Linked DNA regions of Homo sapiens. The protein of the gene in region 4 interacts with the protein of the main gene of each other region in a pairwise test. Each region holds a gene or a part of one and is shown on either strand. Other genes may lie near its edges. The genes, in order: MUTYH, PDGFRL, BMP2K, BAAT, DDO and MLH3.

Region 1 (3,500 bases), on a different chromosome or scaffold from region 4:
GCCTGTAATCCCAGCACTTTGGGAGGCCAAGATGGGCAGATCACTTGAGGTCAGGAGTTCGAGACCAGCCTAGTCAACATGGTGAAACCCTGTCTCTACTAAAAATACAAAAATTAGTTGGGTGTGGTAGCAGGCACCTGTAATCCCAGCTACTTGGGAGACTGAGGCAGGAGAATCGCTTTAATCCAGTTGTGGGAGATTGCAGTGAGCCGAGATCGGGCCACTGCACTCTAGCTTGGGTGACAGTGAGACTGTCTCAAAAAAAAAAAAAAAAAAAAAAAAGAACTGATGGCTCCACAATTCATATCCCACAAAACTCAGTACAGGCATTTCACACACCTGTGACACTGGAGAGTCCTCATCATTTTTTTCCTTTCCCTCTACCCTGCACCCCACAATGGAAGGTCTCCAGGTCAAGAACTATTCCTCCCTCCAGTGAAGCCTGGAGTGGAGAATGTTCACCCAGACATTCGTTAGTTAACTGACTAAAAACCTATGGACTCAGGCCTGGGGAGACACGGTTGGGAGAGGCCTAGGAGACTTACCATACAGGTCCCTGGCTGTTGGCCCTGATACACACGGAAAACCTAGACAAGAAGACAGGGAGGTGAGGGCTGGCACTTTTTGCAAAAGAGATAAACCGGTGTTCTGCCCTTAACTTCATGTCCCAGTACTTTTGTTTAAAATATGCTTTTTTGGCCAGGCATGGTGGCTCACGCCTATAATCCCAGCATTTTGGGAGGCCAAGTCGGGTGGATCACTTGAGGCCAGGAGTTTGAGACCAGCCTGGCCAACATGGTGAAACCCCATCTCTAAAAATACAAAAAATCATGGCTGGGTGTGGTAGCTCACACCTGTAATCCCAGCATTCTGGGAGGCTGAGGCGGGCGGATCACTTGAGGTCAAGAGTTGGAGACCAGCCTGGCCAGCATGGTGAAACCTCATCTCTACTAAAAATACAAAAATTAGCCAGGCATGGTGGCGGGCGCCTGTAATCCGAGCTACTCAGGAAGCTGAGGCAGGAGAATCACTTGAACCCGGGAGATGGAGGTTGCAGTCAACCGAGATAGCGCCATTGCACTCCAGCCTGGGCAACAGAGCGATTCTCCGTCTCAAAAAAAAATGCTTTTTTTCCTGTTTACACAGTAATATATTCATGTAGAACATGTAGGAAACACAAGGAAGTACAACAAAGACAACAAAGGTAGTGCCTTTTTCATGGCGGTGGAAACAGCTGCGGTGTGAAATTCCTCCTGCGTCAGCCAGCGAGCACCTGGTGGTACGGTGGTCACTGGGGTCTGCCCTTCCAAGGCCAGCCCATATACTTGATATGTCAGCTTGATGTGAGAGAAGGTGTGGACAACCTGGAGGAAGGGTCAAGGGGTTCAAATAGGCCTGTGGATATAGCCTCAAAAGCCAACATCCTTGGCTATTCCGCTGCTCACTTACCTCCCCAAGGTGCCGGAGGTGCGTGGCTGGGAGGGGCCCAGCCCAACGCTGTAGTTCCTGCAGCAGGGCCTTGCGCTGAAGCTGCTCTGAGGGCTCCCAGGTCACGGACGGGAACTCCCACAGTCCTGCCAGCAGACCTGAGAGGGAGGGCAGCCAGGCAGGGGTCAGGCCTCAGCTGCCGATTCCCTCCATTCTCTCTTGTTACTCATGCCACTGCCCTCCACGCCCAGTATCCAGGTACCTGAGTTGGGCCTCTGCACCAGCAGAATTTGGGCCCCAAGGGCCCCAGGCTGTTCCAGAACACAGGTGGCAGAGCTCTCCTCCCTGGGGGGCTTGCGGCTGGCCTTTCTGGGGAAGTTGACCACTCCCAGGGTCTGGTCCCAGGGCTCCGAGGGAGGCAGGCACAGGTGGCACTGTCCAGTGTTGGGAGCTGGGAACGGAGATCCCCGAACCCTACTCAAGCCAAGAGGGCTTTAGGGGCCAACCTAGAGAGTGGGCTTTGGCCGGGTTCTGCAGAATCTTACTCAGGTTAGAGGAAGAACTGGAATGGGGCTTCTGACTGGGCCAGGAAGGGTTGGGGTGGGGGCTAGGTTTGGTGCTCACCACACTCCTCCACGTCAGGACTGCCCGACAGGCTCCCTGAGGCTAAGAGCTGTTCCTGCTCCACCTGAGAGGCACAGGGTTGAGTGTCATAGGGCAGAGTCACTCCTTAGGACTTCTCACTGCCCCTTCCCCAGTAGGCTTACTCTCTGGCGTGCCCGGCACAGGCTCTCCACAGGGCACTGGCTGCACAGTGGGCGCTGTGGGGTACACACTGTGGCCCCTAGCTCCATGGCTGCTTGGTTGAAATCTCCTGGCCGGGCTGGGTCCACCAGCTGCTGGGCTAGACCCCTAAAAGAAGGGAACACTGCTGTGAAGCAGAGCTCCTTTGCAGACACCCCTGAAGCACCCTTGTTACCCCAACATCCTACCAGAGCTGCTGGGAAACAAGGGTGCTGCTGGGATCAGCACCAATGGCTCGGACACGGCACAGCACCCGTGCTACGTTGCCATCCACCACACCGGTTGCCTGGCACAGAGGGGCCAAAGAGTTAGCCTGGGCTGGGAGGAAGGAGGCTGGGCACGCACAAAGTGGGGGTGGGCTGTGAGATCACCTGGCCAAAGGCGATAGAGGCAATGGCCCCAGCTGTGTAGCGCCCCACGCCAGGCAGGAGCTGCTGCAGGGTCTCTGCTGTACGTGGCATGTGGCCCCCTAGCTCCTCTACCACCTGATTGGAGTGCAAGACTCAAGATTATAAGACACCCAAGACTCCTGGGTTCCTACCCTCCTGCCATCCCCTTACCTTCCGAGCTCCCTCCTGCAGCCGCCGGCCACGAGAATAGTAGCCCAGGCCAGCCCAGAGTTGATTCACCTCCTGTGGGTAGGATCAGAGGTCAAAGAGATCACCCGTCAGTCCCTCTATTGTTCCTATTTCCCCTACCCTAGGGTGGCTCTCACCTCCAGGGAAGCACTGGCCAGGTCCTGCAGTGTAGGCCACTTCTATAGCCACAGGCAGGCAGAAAGAGACAAGGTCAAGGGTGAAGGTGGTAGAGGAAGCCTTCTCTACACCCACCCCAAAGTAGAGGCTCTCATCTGGGGTCTGACCCATGACCCTTCCCTTCCTCCCCTGGAGTCACCTGCATCCATCCGGTATAGTAGTTGATCACAGTGGCAACCTGGGTCTGCTGCAGCATGACCTCTGAGACCCACACTGGGGGAAAGGGGTTGGCATGAGGACACTGCTGACCTGCCCCTACCTGGCCCACAGCCCCCAGACCCAAGGGCCTCGAGGCAAAGTGGCCCTGCTCTCAGGAGATGTACTGACCAGCATATGCCCGCCTGTCCAGGTCCATCTCATCTTCTGCCTGTCAATGCAACCCCAGATGAGGAGTTAGGGTGGAGGGGGCTGGGTGCCTGCCTCCCACCCACTGTCCCTGCTCCTCGCCTGCCTACCCGTCTTCTCCATGGTAGGTCCCGTTTCTCTTGGTCGTACCAGCTTAGCAGGCTCCCT
Region 2 (3,500 bases), on a different chromosome or scaffold from region 4:
TTCCCAGCCTTACTTCTTATACTATAATATATACTTTACTTCTTATACTATAATACATACTTTGAAATGTGACCAAACCAGTTGCTTTAAAAATATATTTGCAATCCGTAGCTTCCATCAACAATAACAAAGTGTTGAAGTTTGTTTTAATAATTATAGATTACACATGTCCCCTGCAAATGTATTTATATCCACTTATCTAGAAGACAAATGTTTTACTTAAAGAAAACTAAACACATGGGATTTTAGATTAAAAAAAAAAACTCGACCAGGTGCAGTGGCTCACGCCTGTAATCCCGGCACTTTGGGAGGCCAAGGCAGGCGGATCATGAGGTCAGGAGACCGAGACCCTCCTGGACAACATGGTGAAACCCCATCTCTGCTAAAAATACAAAGATTCGTTGGGCACTGTGGCGCATGCCTGTAATCCCAGCTACTCGGGAGGCTGAGGCAGGAGAATCGCTCGAACCGGGGAGTCGGAGGTTGCAGTGAGCTGAGATGGTGCCACTGCACTCCAATCTGGCAACAGAGGGAGACTCCATCTCAAAAAAGACAAAAAAACAAAAAAATGCGGGGGGGGGAGGGATAGCTTTAGGAGATATACCTAATGCTAAATGACGAGTTAATGGGTGCAGCACACCAGCATGGCACATGTATACATATGTAACTAACCTGCACATTGTGCACATGTACCCTAAAACTTAAAGTATAATAATAATAAATAAAAATAAAAATAAAAAAATAAATAAATGCAAGTTAACAAGCTATAAACTAAATCCAAATTACAACAAATTCAGTATTTTGAGACAGTCTCACTCCGTCACCCAGGCTGGAATGCAGTGGTGCCATCTCGGCTCACTGCAACTTTGACTCGCTGCCTCCTGGGTGTAAGCAATTCTTGTGCCTCAGCCTCCCGAGTAGCTGGAATTACAGGCGTGTGCCACCATGCCCACCTAATTTTTGCATTTTAGTACAGAGGGAGTTTCGCCATGTTGGTTAGGCTGGTCTTGAACTCCTGACCTCAAGTGATCCGCCTGCCTCGGCTTCCCAAAGTGCTAGGGGATTATAGGCATGAGCCACTGCACCCAGCCAGGAAAGTACTTATTAATGTGGTTTTCCTACGTATAAAAATTAGAGCCTCAGCCTTTTACTATGAGAAAGCTCTGCTGCTGGTAATGTTCTCATCCTTGATCTGGGTGGGAGTTACATGTGCCTGTTTGCTTAAGGATAATTTATTGAGCTGTATTCTGAGAATTTGAATGTTTTTCTTTACATATGTTATACTACAATAAGAAGTGAAAGAGAAGCAGGGAAAACCTTCCAAGATCCTCCTGGATCAAGATGAAAGAGGAAATACATACGGCAATTATTTAATCACAAACTGCACACTAACAACAGTCAGTCCCCCAAAAGAAGCTTCAGTGTTTTTAATCAAACTCTAGGAAACATACAAACATAATGAATGACAAACATTTCTCCACATGGGTAGCCAGGAAACACATGTTCTGAAAGAATCCTGAGCCAGCAGTGAGAACCTCAGCTTCTGTAACAGCCCATCTTGGTTTCTCAAAGCCATCCATGCTTGAAAAGACAAATTGCCAAACCCTATAGTAAAAATCCAACTGGACTCCTAGCTTAGTGTTGACAAATAAGAAAAAATAAATGATGTATAACACATTAGGTCAAATGTGTTACAGCATTTATTTTTTTTGATCAAAGTTTCTTGATAGTTGGAATGAATATATTTTAGCTTTTCTTTGGTTCCCAAAATTAGTTCAGTTAAAAAAAAAACAAAAAGGTTCCGCCTCCAAAACTCAAAGAGAGCCCGTATTTTTTTTTTTTGAGGTAAAGTCTTGCTCTGTCGCCCAGGTTGGAGTGCAGTGGCGCAATCTTGACTCACTGCAACCACCAACTCCGAGATTCAGGCGATCCTCCTGCTTCAGCCTCCTGAGCAGCTGGGAGCACAACTGTGCACCACCACGCCCAGCTAACTTTTGTATTTTTGTAGAGATGGGATTTCTCCATGTTGGCCAGGCTGTTCTCGAACTCCTGACCTCAGGTGATCCGCCCGCCGTGGCCTCCCAAAGTGCTGGATTACAGGTATGAGCTACCATGCCTGGCCAAGAGCCCATAATATTAATAGGATATTCTGCCCAAGCTAAGCCTGCAGTTCAAAACCTCGACCAATACTTTGGGAAGACACAACAGTGCTAATCTTGGCAAAGAATCTTCCTTCTGCAACTTGAAATGTGGAATCAGTCATTGACTTGAATAACAGACTTTTATTCATCTTAGTTGGTTGCTTTTTCCACTGTTGCTTCACAGCATGGTATAATACAAAGGGCACATTTACAATCTTGTGTAGCGAGTTCCAAAATGAAGATCCAAAGAGATTGCCTATGAACAATTATTAGCAATTCTCCTGACAACACCAGTTATGCTAGCTAGAATCTGGCTATCAGTCCATCCTTCACCTTGTCCTACAAAAGGTTCAAGGCAGTAAAAACACTGGATCCTGGGTCAGAAAAACAGGTTTGGCTCCTTATTGTGCCACTACAGGTCCTGGAACATTGAGGCTCAGCATGAGCATTAGTACTTCTAGTATTTTGGAGATAATAAAATAGCTTTTGCTTATTTCCCAGGGATGTTGTGGAATGAAACTGATAGAGGCAGGAGGCAGAGAACTCTCCTAAGCAGATACGGGAATGTCCTTAGAGAACCTCTGACCTACCAAGGTCATTGTGCACAGGGGTCTTGCCTAAACATACCCCCAGTGAAAAATTCCATCCCTTAACACACATGCAGTAAGGGAAATAAATCAACGTGGAGTGACTCAGATTAAGGGCCTGCAGGTACACTGAAAGGATGGGGTGGAGCCGCCAGGAATTCACGCCTCTTACAAACAGGGAACCCAGCCCTACCGAGGGAACATAGAAGCCCTTGTATTCAATTGTGTGGAGAGCAACCTGCAACCTGCTTTCAGGACCCCTCTTTTTGCTGAGAGCTTTCCTTTTCGCATAATAAATTCTACTCCACGCACTCTTTTAAGTGTCTGTGTGCCTAAGTTTTCCTGGCATGAGACAAGAACTTGGATCTCTGAACTAAGGAGTAAAAAGTCTGCATCAAAATGAGATACATGTGCTTCCAGAACTGCAGCATACCCTACTAATGCATCTCCTTGCCAGAGAGGAGCTATTTGGGCAGGAAAGGACAAATACATAAGATTGTACTAAAACATTCTTTAATGGTCAGGGCATAACATCCTTTGGGTCATAGGCCTATGTCTAGGTCTAGGCCTATGTCTAGGTCTACGTCTGAAAGGTAGGTGGATTCAAGGCATGGAGAAATTTCATGAAAGTCCCTGCCCAGGCACTAACAAAGGATTCTGGTTTCACCTGAAATGTCTTGGACGACAATAGGACGAGGGTGGCTTTGTAAGATTCCTGAAAGCTCTTACTGACTTCTGAACCTTGCTGGAGAACTTCATCCCCTAAACTTCA
Region 3 (3,500 bases), on a different chromosome or scaffold from region 4:
CTCAGTGGCTACACACCTAGAAAGGTGCCATGTGCTTTCACTGGAAGTACCACACTTGCATTTCTGTGTTGTGATGTCAGTAGCAGAAACCCTTAGTTAGAGCTTGCAATTTAGCTCCCTTTTCTCCTGAAGAGGAATCAAGTTACTACCCTGTAGAGATACTTCATTCTTCTATTTGGTTTATTTAGAAATCACCTATTCTGACTGATCTTTAAGAATGAATGCTATAAAGAGCTACCAAATTTTCTTTCAAATTCATAAAACTGTTCACACTTTTTTGAAACAGGAGTTAATGCCGAGAATCCATCAGAAGTATCTACTGTTTAGAAGGAAATGGAGCAGCACCAAATGGGTCTAATTCGACTGGTTGGGACTGTTGGGACTGATGTGGAGTGATGCTTTGCACCACAAGTTCTGTAAAGGGCACGGCACCAAAATCATCCATTTTCAATACATCTGCACTATGGAATGACCCATGTAGTGAATTTTGTCTTGGCCGCCCTGGCAGGACAGTATTGTGATCAGCACGGATGTCGCTCAGGCCCTGATGTGGAGGGTGCCATGACAGGTCTGGAGAATGGAAGGGCTTGGCACCGAAGGGGTCCAACAGGCTCTCCTCAGGTTGTAAGACATTCCCCCTATCTTTCCCATCAGTCAGTGCAACACTAATGTTCTCCTTGGAGTCTGAGATGGTTAAAAATTCATTGCTACTTTGAGAGTCTCGGCGGCCCACTTTTTTGTGCCTGCGAGCCCTCTCTGGAGTGCGATAGGTAGGCTTCAAAGTCTTCTTTGTGCTAGTTGGCGTGCCATGATGCCGCTTCCCATTACTTTTGGACATATCCTGCTTTGTGCGCCTTTGGCGAGAGGACAGTTTCTGTAAGCTGCGCTGTTTGACTTTTTGCTGCTGGCTCCCCGTTATTTCATCAAAGGGCACAAGCCCAAAAAGGTCCTCATTGCTTTCACTTTTACTTGTTGATGTGAGGAAGGGCTGAAATGGAGTGGAGCCAAATACATCTACACTTTTGGGATAACCAGGGATAGTATGTGCCTCAGGCCCCACTGCATGGCATTCTTGTACATTCACCTTCTTGCTAAAAGGCGCCTTTGTGAATACATCAAATTCCTCCTGCTCCAGTCCTGCAGCAGGAAACCTGTGTTGAGGGAGGTTCTTTTCATTCTTTTCTTGCTGGGGCTGTTGAGCACGCACTGCAAAGAAGGGGACAGCGCCAAATACATCAAACTCCTGTTTGGGAGTCTCCACTGCAACATCAGAGGATAATTGGGCTGAGGTGAGGAGTATTGTATTAAGATCTTGGGTTGGTCCACTGCCAGATCTGTCTCTGTAGACAGAGCTCATGTCACTGTACTTTGCTTTAGCCTGCTCATAATCAGAATCAGAGCTATGTTTCTCCTCTTCTTCCTCATCTTCAGAATCCATGAGGAGAGGCCTATGACCCAGATTTTCTGGTTCAGTATCATCATCATTAAAATCTCCTTGTTCCCCCTGAAGAACTTCTTCATCATCTTGCTCTTCCTCTTCACTGCTCTTAGGAGAAGGGGGATCTGATTCAAAATCACTTTCAGATTCATCATTCCCCTTTTGCACTTGACCCTGTACTGAGGTTTTCTTTCCAGTCCGCTGATCTTTAGATGCTGGACTTGTTTTACCGTTCTTGATAGGGTTTGCAGTGCCATTTTCTTGATTTATAGATGAATGTTCAGCTTTCTTTTCAGGAGAACCTGCAAGTTCAAATAAATATTATTACAGCATTCCAATGCATTTCAGAATCCTCTTGCACTAAATGTTAATATGTATTACACATGGCATTACAAATCCCTCATACGAGTTCCCTTAGAGGAAAAAATAATGTTGTCAATTCTTCGTCATTAGACTTAGAGAATGCATTTGACCTCAGGTAGATAGTTAAGTCTTAATGTAGACAGACTTATTCATATCTGGACCCTACACCCTGCCTCATCGTACTCTCACTGACAGCCAAATTTTATTTATAGCACACAGAATGTAGTAGACTAGCAAATTTTCTTCACCCCACCACCAAAATAACATTATTCTGCTAATTCTGAAAGCTCAGATTTCACATTCACCAAATACCTCCTGCTTATATTTCAACTCTTGTAAAGTTTTCCCATAGAGATCAACAAGCATGAACAGCCTGCCTGCTCAGTTACGTATTTGTTTCACTATTTTTTTAAATCAGCATTGTATTTTTTATAAACCACTATCTTTTGAATTGACTTAGCATGAATGGCCTCACCAAAGCTAAGGACCAGATACTAAATGGAGACTGTACCAAAAACATCTGCCTTCTCTAGATGATATGACTTCCTTTAATTATAATATCTATACATTACATTAAAAAAGCGAGATTCCTTTAAAAACAAATCTAAACCATCTGGAGATGTTTTTAGCTCAGAATCCATTCAGTCACTTCATTTTCTGAGTTCATTCAACGAAAGAAATATAGGGCACTTTGCTATACACTGATTATACATTGGTGAGTAAAAGAAACATGGTTTCTGCTTTCAGGGGTTTACAGTCAGAGGTTGTAAGTAAACATAAATTGTGACTAGTGCTCTGAAATAAAGGACAGCAGGGAAATGGGCGCATAAACCTACTTTGGACAGTGGTGAAGACCTCCCTAAGGAGACGACAGTTAGGATTGAACAATGAGAAGGAGCCCAGCCATGCAAAGGATAAGCTGGAAGCAGCTTCCAATAAAAGCAATGGCATATATAAAGACATATTTAAGGGGCTGAAAATAGGCTATTGTGGCTGGAATATAGTGAGCAAGGGAGGATCAGGTACAACATGAGGTAAGGAAGACTGGAAAAGGCCAGACTGTGAAGGTCCTCTAAGGCCATGATAAGCAGCGTATATTTCATTATACATCTAATTCAAAATTCCATGTATAATGGAAAGCTATTATTAAAATAGGTGTCATGATTAGGTTTACATAAAAAAAAATGACTGCTCTATAGAAAAACACTAAGGGGGCTGGGTGCGGTGGCTCACCCCTGTAATCCCAGCACTTTGGGAGGCCAAGGCGGGTGGATCACGAGGTCAGGAGTTTGAGACCAGCCTGGCCAACATGGTGAAACCCCATCTCTACTAAAAATAGAAAAATTAGCCAGGCATGTTGGCAGGTGCCAGCTGAGCCAGGAGAATCGCTTGAAACTGGAAGACAGAGGTTGCAGTGAGCCAAGATCGCACCACTGCACTCCAGTCTGGGCCAAAGAGCGAACTGTCTCAAAAAAAAAAAAAAAAAAAAAAAAGACTAAGGGAAGGTAAGAAGGGGAGTTCAGGCAAAAGGAAATTATAGTAATGCAAGTTAGAGATTTTGGTGGCCTAGATGACATGACAGTGGTGGCAGGGTGGGTCAAAGTAGAAAAAATAGAGATTGAAAACTCTTGGTGGATGGCAGCACCATTAACAGAAAGAAAAGAATGAGTGGCGTGATAGAAACCCATTTACCCTGATG
Region 4 (3,500 bases):
ATGCCACTGCACTCCAGCCTGGGTGACGGAGCAAGACCCTGTCTTTTAACAAAAACAAAAACAGAAACAAAAAAACCCCAGGGACTCAAACCTACTGAAAAGACAAAAATTACCTTTGGATGTCTCAGGAGAAAGTTGGCAGCCTCCTCAAAATATTCCAAATCTGTTACTTCTGGTTTGCGGGGCAGGTCTTCATAGTTATGGTAAGCCAAGGCCAAGGAGGCGAAGCCACGACTGGCTAGGAGGCTGGCCCGAAATTCAAGCAGCCCACCCAAACCACCAAACAAATCAATTACCCCTGGGAAGAGACCCTCTCCTGAAAAATAACAAAACAGAATTGTACATGAAGAGAAGGTGTGGAAAAGATAAGAAAACTTGAAAATACAAAGCAGAAATACAAATGATTAGATAATAAAAGATAAAATAAATAAATAAAAGATAATAAAAACATGAGAACACAAAGCAGAAATGCAAAATTACATTCAAATGTAATTTTGAAATTAACATTTAAATATTCAAATACAATTCCAACACTTTCAGCCTTCTACCTGGGGCAGAATTAAGGTCCATTGAATATATAATGGAACACAATATCTAGACGTTTGACTAGGAACTACATTCAGAGACATATTTACTCTCTGCAGCTGAGGAAATGGGAATTCACAGTAGTTTCTATACTCTTGTTGTAAAGAAAGGCATATAAATTAGGCCAGGGCTTCTTAACCTATAAAGAAGTATACAAATAAGCTTTAGGAAATCTGTGAAGATCCTGAAATTACAATATATGCAAAATATGGTATATATATATTTGTAGGTGAATTTTACTTATGAGAGGTTCCACAGATTTAATTTGGTTCTCAAAGAAATACATGATTCAAAAACATTTTTTAAATGATTGTATTAGCTAAAATCCTGACTTAACACTGCTCTGCTACATTCATTTGACTATACAGTGATGAAACCTTACACCTAAGCTTATGTAAATGATGAGCCCCTTTATTCAATAACGCCATGTTCATTTTTTGCAGGCTGACACGTGGTAAAAAGTAGGGACGGCCAGAGTATCATTCTACAGTCACTCTGTATAGGCAGCTTTTTTCCAAAATAAAGCAGAGCCCACACACTGAAAGAAACTTACGATGCACTTATTAGGGATATTCTATTCTTTTATAAGTGGTTTTAACTAAGACAGAGTGATCCCATCCATATTTGAAAGAAGTGGCTTGATTTAAAGGAGTATTGGGAATTTTTAAAAATTACTATAATTAAGTACAATGAATAAATAATAAATAAAGTGAAGTTGAATATATCTTAGTTTTAAATTATCATTTGCATAAATGAATAAGGATGTTTTTACCATCTGATTGACAAGAATGGGGGAACACTTAAAAGTACTGAGTCTTTTATCTTGGAAGAATGTTACAGTCATGAAATATTTGTGATCTGACTCAACCTCCTTATAACCTCACACAACTCAGCTCTCTTTTGTTCCCCCGATAGAAAACACACTTGAAGCGGGAGACCCAGCACATGCAGTGTTCAAGAGGATTCACAAACAGCACACCCTAAACCAGCACATCATCCCAAGATGGAAGGCCTGTACCAATAAGCAGATTTTTAACTGGGGTGGGATAATAGAGGCACAGCAATTTGTGCCATTTAATTCTTGGTCCCTATACATAATAAAGTGGTCTATATGCTATTTACTGGGTATTTTAAAAACTCAAATTTATCCGAACAAGTACATGGGTTATGGTGAATTTGGAAAGGAAAGCTTTTATTGCTTTTTTTTCTTCTGAGAAATTAACTTTGCTTTATTTGGCCCCACAATAAACTCTGAGAAATGTACCAAAACATGTTTAAACCACTTATTTATTGGTATTTGGAGATTTCTGTGGGAAACTATGAGCGTTCTGATAAGTTTTATAGCCATTAGGAAGCATGCTATATTATTAGATTCATGGAATAGTCTATAAATATGTAATATTTATGAAGCTAGAGGTTACAAAGTTTCTTGCATCCTCTATATTTGCTGCAATCTTTCAGTCCATCTTATCTCCAGCTTGTTGTGGCAACAAGGTAATAACCCATGCCTAAACTGAAACTCAACCTGACAGAGCCTGTACAAGGATCTGGGATATGGTTTCCATCACATCAAGATGAGGGTCTTCATATAGCTATAAGATTAGAGCTATAAGATAAGGCTGAAGAAGTATGCAGAAGTCAGATCATAGAAAGTTTTGTCTAACATTTGTTCATCTTTGAGTGCTTAGTATTGCCAGGTTCTATGATAAGCATTTTGCATGCATTATCCTTTTTTTTTTTTTTTTTTTTTTTGCTTTGTCACCCAGGCTGGAGTGCAGTATCAGGAACATGGCTCACTGCAGCCTCAATCTCCGAGGCTCAAGAGATCTTTCCTCCTCAGCCCCTGCTGAGTAGCTGGGACTACAGGTGCCTGCTACCACACCCAGCTAATTTTTTAGTATTTATAGAGAAAGAGTTTGGCTATGTTGCCCAGGCTGGTCTTGAACTGTTGGCCTCTATTAATCCTCCCATCTTGGCTTCAGTGCAGAAAAATTTAGCATAAATCCAAAGCTATGTAAAGCCCATAATGTAGGGACTACATAAACTATATGTAGTCACATTCTTAGACAAGCTTCAGAATTGTTGAGATGAAACTTGAGCTGGAGTAGAATATTACCACATTCTTGTTCAGACCCAAGGTTAACATTGATTGTAAGGCAGGAAGCAGTGCTCTAGGTATTATCCATATTCAAGTTAAATTTCTGGAGGGATAATGCATTTAAGGTGGAAAAACAATAATAACAATAACCAGAGTAATTCTACAAGCTATTCAAGCTAAATTTCTAGACGGATAATGTATTTAAAGTGGAAAAACAAGAATAACAATAAGCAGAGTAATTCTACTCACCTGGAGGGAGAAAGAGAGCTCCTCGAAGGCGGCCTTCTCGAACCTTAATTCGTGTGACACCAGGTGCCACATACCACCTCTCCAAAGTCAGGCTGGCCTTTGGAGCACTGGCAACTTTATTGTTCACTATTAACTCTAAGTCATAAAGTTTTACTTGGACCTGGAAAGGCCTATTCATCACATCTCTTTTCAACAGTCTTGTTAATAGCTTTTCAGGTTTCAGAGACCAGAAGAGACCCATGGGGTGGACTCCCATATAATCCCCTCCAAGTGAAGAAGCATGATTCAGGTCCACCTCACCGAATTCATTGGCCCTATAGTGGGCTTGAGAATAAAACATGTCTCCGTTTTCATCTTCCAGTGATGCCTGAAAACTCACCATCTGAAAGGGAATCAGGCCTGTAGCTCGGATATGCACTGGCTCATCAACAAGTGCACTCACAGGGGTAGCTGTCAACTGGATCATTTTTTTAGTGTGGCACCTGGGATGATTCTTCAGGAATATCTTCAGCAAAACCTCAAAACCTCAAAAAAGAAAGAAAGAGGAGCAGTAAAATAAAGTAGAGAT
Region 5 (3,500 bases), on a different chromosome or scaffold from region 4:
CCACCTACCTCAGCCTCCCAAAGTGCTGGGATTGCACCAAAGTACTGGGATTGCAGGCGTGAGCCACCGTGCCCAGCCTCCTCAAGCCTCTTTACTTCAATACCAGCACTTCATTTTCCGTCCACCCAAGCTCTCTAGAGGATTCACAATACACGTGCACACATTAGAGGCTCTGAGTAGGCCTGAGTCAAAAAACAGGTTAAATTCATTTAACTCAACAATTCCAACTCATTTTATTGTGAGACACATTCCCCTCCTCCCCAATACTTCTTAACAAACTGCGGAGTACTCTGATTATATTTCATTCAGAATGATTGTTCCACCTTAATTAGCAAATTAGTTCTTTGGCTGCACATGCTGTTCATCTTCAAAAATGCTTAGGCAAAGCCAACCATACCACAAACCAGCTCTCAATCATTTACAGTAATGGAATGTACAACCCCTAGGTGTTTGACCCCAGGCAGCTATTGAATTGATATGACATACATAGGCAACTTCATCTCTGTCTCCTACCATCATTACCAGCTGAGGGGAGGAAAAGCTTGCTGCTAGTACTAGGAGCAAGCATGCTTTGTCTTCAATTAAATGTAATAATCCAGCACTGTGTGAGCACAATGTAATTTTATTTAGAGGAATTATGTTGCTGACTTGGCTATAACCTAAGAAGATCACAGGCAGCTCTGCAATTGACAGTGATTTAAATGTTTTCCATACATTATCTCCTCCTGTGGATTTATAAGCCAAATGATATCAAAATCTCTATAGCTTCCAACATTCATATAAATCTGCATAGGTCCTTGGACATCAGTTCTAAATAAATTTTACTCTATAAGAAGTATTTTTAACAAAAAATAGAGCTTTATGCCCTATGCCATTAATGCTGGACTTCCTAAGTAAGCCTACATGTTGCATCATTTCTTTTGTTGTTGGTGTTTTTTTTAGAGGTGGGAACTGGCACCTCTAAAAAATGTTACCCAGATTGCACTCAAACTCCTGGGCTCAACAATCCTCCTGCCTCAGCCTCTCAAGTAGCTGGGACTATAGGCATGCCACCGTGCTCAGCTTACATGTTACACCACTTCTAATGTTGAAAACAAAGAAATGTCTAATTAAACTTTCATGCAGTGGAAAAGTTATTTGAACCTGTTCTGTGCTTTGATCAACAGTCTCTCAGTCTCTTTGCTGTCATTTTATGTCATCTACAGGTTTGACTTGGGAATGGGGGTCCTGAGGGCATGGACACACTCGCTCACCAGCCTGGCGGCCTCCAGAGCAGTGCCCCAGTGCACTGAGATGCCCCCACTCCCATGGCCATAGTGGTGGACTACAGGCAGCCTCTGTCCATCTCGCGCAAGGAGCTCTGTCTGCAGTCGCACGCCTGGCCTGTAGGGCCTCAAGCCCACCTTCTCCCTGATGTTGCAGGCTCCGTGGAGGGAGGGCTCCAGAGCACAGCATCGGGAAAGAATCTCTCTGCTATTTTCTGCATCCGGGGACAGATTCCAGTCCCCTTTTTGCCTAGTTCCACCTAGGGTTACATGGGATGTACCAGGATAAATATATGTCAGCCCACTGCCATCTCGGATAAAATGCTCCACCCAGGGAGCCTGAACTTGGAGGACTTGGCCCCTTACAGGGAAAATCTTTGAGTCTCCTGCAAGCTGTCTGCTTCCAAGGCCTGAACAGTTGACCACGATGTCAAAGGACGGATGAAGTTCCCACAGGTCTTCTATTCGCCGAGTGAGTGTCCAGCCTCCACTTCCCTTTATCCTACGGAAGAGAGGCCATGAAGTGAATATTTGTTAGCGACCTGATCAACTACTTCCAGGAAATAAAGAAAAGGAACCCAGGAACAAAAATTAGGTGATGATCTGATGAACAAACACCTCAGGAGCTTCCAGGGCCCAGTCAGGCCAAATTCTAGCCATCAACTGCTTCACATCCTAGGAACTGGGGATTTCTAAAGTTGAATCTAAATGGAAACCACTTGAAAATTCAAAACAAAGGAAATTATATGCTTTGCCCTTTTAAAATTTTGTAAAATTCCTACATTATTCTAGATGCTGAATAAATGCCAAGTTGATTTGGTATTTTAAATGTCCAAGCATTTCTTATTTATACCACTTATTTAACACCTAAATTTACTACCTTAAACATTTTATCTCATATTGTTAACTCTTGCATGATCCTTTGTATTAGCCTGGTCTCCCTAACTAAAAGGTACAGGGGTCATATCCCCACCAGCTTTATGTCCACAACTATGTTAGCACGAGAAGAACACAAAATATTTGTAGCTGATGAGCTAAATGGCAGCTGTGGTTGGTAATTACTATATTTTTTGGACCAACTATATCAATAGTGAAAAGAAATGGTTTATCCAGTACCTGTAGTCTTTATTTAAATCAAGGTAAAATACACTTAACATAAAATTTATCATTTTGACGATTTTTAAGTGTAAAGTTCAGTAGTATTAAGCACATTTACCTTGTTGTGCAACCGCCATCACCATCCATATGCACTATCCATCTTCAGAATATTTTTTTTTTTTCTGAGATGGGGTCTCACTCTGTCACCCAGGCTGGAGTGCAGTGGCGTGATCTCAGCTCACTGCAGCCTTGACTTCCTTGGCTTAAGTGATCCTCCCACCTCAGCCTCCTGAGTAGCTGAGACCACAGGTGTGTGCCACCATGCCCGGCTAATTTTTTTGTATTTTTGATAGAGACAGGGTTTTGCCATGTTGCCCAGGCTGGTCTGCAACTCATGAGCTCAGTCGATCCACCTGCCTCTGCCTCCCAAAGTGCTGGGATTATAGGCATGAGCCACCGTGCCTGGCCTCCAGAACTTTTTTAATCTTGCAAAATGGAAAGTCTACCCAATAAACAATAACCCCCAGGACATGTAATCTTATTCACAGGTCACTTGTAGAATAGAGAAAGAGACTATCAGCAGCTCTGTTCAATAGACGCAGGCCGAATGCTTGCATGCGGGGCACTGCTAAGAGGGACCAGAAGGGTGTGAGTGACAGTGCCCTTCGTCAAGGGCTGACAGAGGAACTGGCAGACAGAAGTGTAAATGCTTGGCAGAATGGACTAAGTTCTACAGGAGAAGTGGTGTGAAATCAGAAAGCCTGGCTTTATATCCCAGCTCTGCCTCACATTAGCTTTGAGCTCTTGGCCAACTCACCTCACTTCAAATCTCAGTTTCCTCATCTGCATCATGGGGAGGATACCTCCCTTGCCTGTCTCACAGGATGGTTGTGAGGTTACAATAAAATAATGGCCACAACTTTGAACAGTCGTCAATCACAATACATCTTAGAGGACCGATATCAATAAATCACGAATTCCTCAAGGGGAGAGACTGTATCTTATGTTTCTTACCATCCCTATGACCTAGCTAAGTGCCCCACACCAAGTGGACTGGAAGTAAGTGTTAGCCAATACTAAAGACAATATGAAATCCTGGTTTGGACCTGCTATGGTTAATTTATGTGTCAACTTGAT
Region 6 (3,500 bases), on a different chromosome or scaffold from region 4:
TGTCATGCCTACTCAACAATTCTTTTTGAGCCAAAGCAGCCATAGACAATATGTGAATATCGTAGCTGTGTTCCAATAAAACTTTATTTATGGACACTGAAATACTAATTTCATATAATTTTAATGTGTCAAGAAATAGTCTTCTTTTTTTTTCCCAACCATTAAAAAATGTAAAAACCATTCCCATCTCCCTGGCTGTACAGAAAGAGGTGATGCCCAGATTCCCCTCGGGCCATGTTTATCCTGCCTTAGACTTGGGCTTCTCAAACGTTCATATCACATACCCCCTGGGGATCTTATTAAAACACAGATTCTGGCTGGGCCTGTGGCTCATGCCTGTAATCCCAACACTTTGGGAGGCTGAGGAGGGCAGATCACTTGAGGTCAGGAATTCAAGATCAGCTGACCAACATGGTGAAACCCTGTCTCTACTAAAAATACAAGAATTAGCCGGGCGTGGTGGCAGGTGCCTGTAGTCCCAGCTACTTGGGAGGCTGAGGCAGAAGAATTCCTTGAACTCGGGAAGGGGAGACTGCAGTGAGCCGAGATTGCACCACTGCAATCCCACCTGGGCGACAGAGCAAGACTCCATCTCAAAAAAAAAAAAAAAAAAAAAAAAGTAAAGAAAAAAAGAGAAATTTCAACAGATCCATTTTGCTTCTTTCAACATCTGCAGATTTTGTAGTTACACCCATCTTGAGTATCATTAGTAGAGATTCTGATCTCAAAAACAACAAAGAATTCCAGATAATGAAAACTTAAAAAAAAAATTGGCCAGGCGGGTTGGCTCATGCCTGTAATCCCAGCACTTTGGGAGGCCAAGGCGGGCGGATCACCTGAGATCAGGAGTTCGAGACCAGCCTGGCCAACATGGAGAAACCCCGTCTCTACTAAAAATACAAAATTAGCTGGGCGTGGGTGGCGGGTGCCTGTAATTCCAGCTACTTGGAAGGCTGAGGCTGGTGAACCGCTTGAACCCAGGAGGCGGAGGTTGCAGTGAGCTGAGATTGCACCATTGCACTCCAGCCTGGGCAACAAGAGTGAAACTTCGTCTCAAAAACAACAACAACAAAAAACTATTACTTTTCTAGAAATAGTAAAACTATAGGAATTTGATCTTCACAAATTCTATATTCATGATAATTCTGACAGAACTTTAGGTTAATTTGCCTTTGATCTGCTATGACATTTACTAAACAAGGTAAAGGGAATATTTTGAAATACATAGAGAATAAATGCTCTAAAACTTTAGCACTTGCCTGCAGGTACTATCAAGCTGGAGCCAGCCCTCCACTGCTGCTCAGGGCTCAGCCACTCAGGCCTTTTCAGGGACTTTATCCCATCAGGCATCCCTTGCAAATGTGCTCAAGTTTCTCCCATTAAAAAAAAAAGGTCCTCTGTCACCCTCACCCTCTGTAGTCCCTCTTCCGTGTCATGGGCACATTTCTGAGTATCTCCTTGCAGTCTCCATTAGCACCATCAGCATCTCGTCCTGTCTATTCTCTGAAACAGCTCTCACTTGCTAAAATCCCTAATCTCTACTGTCACAAAATCAGATGATCCTCATCTTACTTAATGTCTTGGCAGCGTTTGGCATGACATCCTGGTTTTCCAACATAACATTCTTCTGTTTTCTTCCTATTTCTCTAGCTGTTCTTTCACAGTCTCTTTTGCTGGTTCATCCTCTTCTACCGAGCTCTTAAGTGCTAGAATTATTCTAGATTCAAGACCTCTCCTCACTCTTCTTTTTTCTAGGTGATAACATTTATATCCAGGGTTTCAGTGATCACTTTTCTGCATCTGATGGCTCAAATTTGTATCTCCATGTCAGAACACTTGTCTAGGCCAGACTTGTAATATCCAACCACATTCTTGACATCTTTTTATTTTATTTTTTTGACAGAGTTTCGCTCTGTCACCCAGGCTGGAGTGCAGTGGTGCGATCTTGGCGCACTGCAACCTCCGCCTCCCGGGTTAAAGCAATTCTCTGCCTCAGCCTCCCGAGTAGCTGGGATTACAGGCATCTGCCACCATGTCCAGCTAATTTTTGTATTTTTAGTAGAGACAGCGTTTCAGCATGTTGGCCAGGCTGGTCTCAACTCCTGACCTCAGGTGATCCACCCACCTCGGCCTCCCAAAGTGCTGGGATTACAGGCGTGAGCCACCGTGCCTGGCCACCTTGACATCTCTTCTGGAGCATTTCAAAGACTGAACTCATGATTTTCATCCTCTCTGCTCTGCCTGCAACACGGGTCCTGCAACATCATCAACTCAGCTATGGAGGCCAGAACACCAGAAGTCATCTTTTACATACTTTCCCCATATCCAATCCATCACCAAGCCCTGCTGACTCTATCTCCTAAATATCTTTCCAATACATTCACTGCTCTCTAGTCCACCCTGGTCCCATCTAACCATGTCTCAGATATTGCAATATTCTTTTAACAGTCAATCTACAGTTAACTGGGACTCCACCCCTACTCCTACTCCATTCTCCACACTACAACCAGAGCAATCTTTTTAAAATGCAAATGTGATGTGACATGTACCACCCCAAAAACAACATCAAAATACAAATGATAAAAAATGAAAAAAAAAAGCTTTCAATGGTTTCCAACAGTATTGGGACAAAGCAAAGCTTGTAGCTGGCATTTAAGATCTGACTCCTACCTACTTCTCTAGCCTCATCTCCAGTTCCCCTTGCCCTGTTTCCACTCACTGAGGAGAATAAATCACAAATTGCATGGTTGTTCCCTCCTTTCTTTACTTAGTTAACTCATATTCATATTCAGACCTCATTTTACCAAGAAGCACTTCCCTGAACTCCCTGATGAAATCAAATCTCCCAATACAGGTTCTTAGAGCATCTTGTATCTCTTTCTCCATTACAGGGGCTAGAACTAAAATTTTATGTTTGTGTAATTATTTTTTTCTCTTGCATATATATCTTTTCTCATTATTGTATCCCTAGGGCCTGGTACAGTCCCTGGCATACAATGGGCACTCAATTAATACTTGTTGAATGAGTTAATATATTTACAAACTATTATTGTTTCATTAGAGCAGGTCACCAAGAGATTCTGTGTAAATATTGACAAACCTAGCAGAGTTCATTATATACACTTTCTATTATTATAAAGGGAAAACATGAAAATATTATTAAAAAGTCAAACAATAGAAAATATTTAAAAGAATAAAAGATGGGCTGGGCGTGGTGGCTTACACCTGTAATCCCAGCTGTTAGGGAGGCAGAGGTGGAAGGATAGCTTAAGCCCAGGAGTTCGAGACCTACCTGGGCAATATAGCGAGACCCCGTTCTCCACAAAAAGGAAAAAAAAAAGACAAAAAGAGTAAAAGTTGAAATATCTCCTTTGCACACCCTCATTTTCACTCCCAAAGTAAATACTCTTGATAGTTTAATGTGCATCCTGAGTATATGTATGTGTATGAACATAAAACTAAATGTCTGTCGCCCAGGCTGGAGTGTAATAGCGCAATCT

The links.
Region 1: the proteins of BAAT (region 4) and MUTYH interact in a two-hybrid assay, tested with the Homo sapiens proteins (one large-scale study listed by BioGRID and IntAct).
Region 2: the proteins of BAAT (region 4) and PDGFRL interact in a two-hybrid assay, tested with the Homo sapiens proteins (one large-scale study listed by BioGRID and IntAct).
Region 3: the proteins of BAAT (region 4) and BMP2K interact in a two-hybrid assay, tested with the Homo sapiens proteins (one large-scale study listed by IntAct).
Region 5: the proteins of BAAT (region 4) and DDO come close enough for resonance energy transfer, tested with the Homo sapiens proteins (one large-scale study listed by BioGRID).
Region 6: the proteins of BAAT (region 4) and MLH3 interact in a two-hybrid assay, tested with the Homo sapiens proteins (one large-scale study listed by BioGRID and IntAct).

The regions. Positions count from the first base shown.
Region 1 is NC_000001.11:45,329,971-45,333,470, forward strand, and holds part of MUTYH (adenine DNA glycosylase), read right to left. Parts: coding exon 3,443-3,500; intron 3,355-3,442; coding exon 3,315-3,354; intron 3,201-3,314; coding exon 3,127-3,200; intron 2,990-3,126; coding exon 2,948-2,989; intron 2,865-2,947; coding exon 2,793-2,864; intron 2,718-2,792; coding exon 2,604-2,717; intron 2,519-2,603; coding exon 2,421-2,518; intron 2,341-2,420; coding exon 2,196-2,340; intron 2,117-2,195; coding exon 2,053-2,116; intron 1,880-2,052; coding exon 1,691-1,879; intron 1,587-1,690; coding exon 1,450-1,586; intron 1,365-1,449; coding exon 1,212-1,364; intron 588-1,211; coding exon 546-587; intron 99-545; coding exon of another isoform or gene 96-98; exon of another isoform or gene 1-95. UniProt on the Homo sapiens protein: Involved in oxidative DNA damage repair. Initiates repair of A*oxoG to C*G by removing the inappropriately paired adenine base from the DNA backbone. Possesses both adenine and 2-OH-A DNA glycosylase activities.
Region 2 is NC_000008.11:17,622,216-17,625,715, reverse strand, and holds part of PDGFRL (platelet-derived growth factor receptor-like protein precursor), read right to left. Parts: intron 1-3,500.
Region 3 is NC_000004.12:78,908,850-78,912,349, reverse strand, and holds part of BMP2K (BMP-2-inducible protein kinase), read right to left. Parts: intron 1,741-3,500; coding exon 317-1,740; 3' UTR 1-316. UniProt on the Homo sapiens protein: May be involved in osteoblast differentiation.
Region 4 is NC_000009.12:101,368,007-101,371,506, forward strand, and holds part of BAAT (bile acid-CoA:amino acid N-acyltransferase), read right to left. Parts: intron 3,458-3,500; 5' UTR 3,399-3,457; coding exon 2,933-3,398; intron 317-2,932; coding exon 114-316; intron 1-113. UniProt on the Homo sapiens protein: Catalyzes the amidation of bile acids (BAs) with the amino acids taurine and glycine. More than 95% of the BAs are N-acyl amidates with glycine and taurine.
Region 5 is NC_000006.12:110,391,576-110,395,075, forward strand, and holds the end of DDO (D-aspartate oxidase), read right to left. Parts: intron 1,768-3,500; coding exon 1,200-1,767; 3' UTR 209-1,199; downstream 1-208. UniProt on the Homo sapiens protein: Selectively catalyzes the oxidative deamination of acidic amino acids. Suppresses the level of D-aspartate in the brain, an amino acid that can act as an agonist for glutamate receptors. Protects the organism from the toxicity of D-amino acids.
Region 6 is NC_000014.9:75,034,468-75,037,967, forward strand, and holds part of MLH3 (DNA mismatch repair protein Mlh3), read right to left. Parts: intron 1-3,500. UniProt on the Homo sapiens protein: Probably involved in the repair of mismatches in DNA.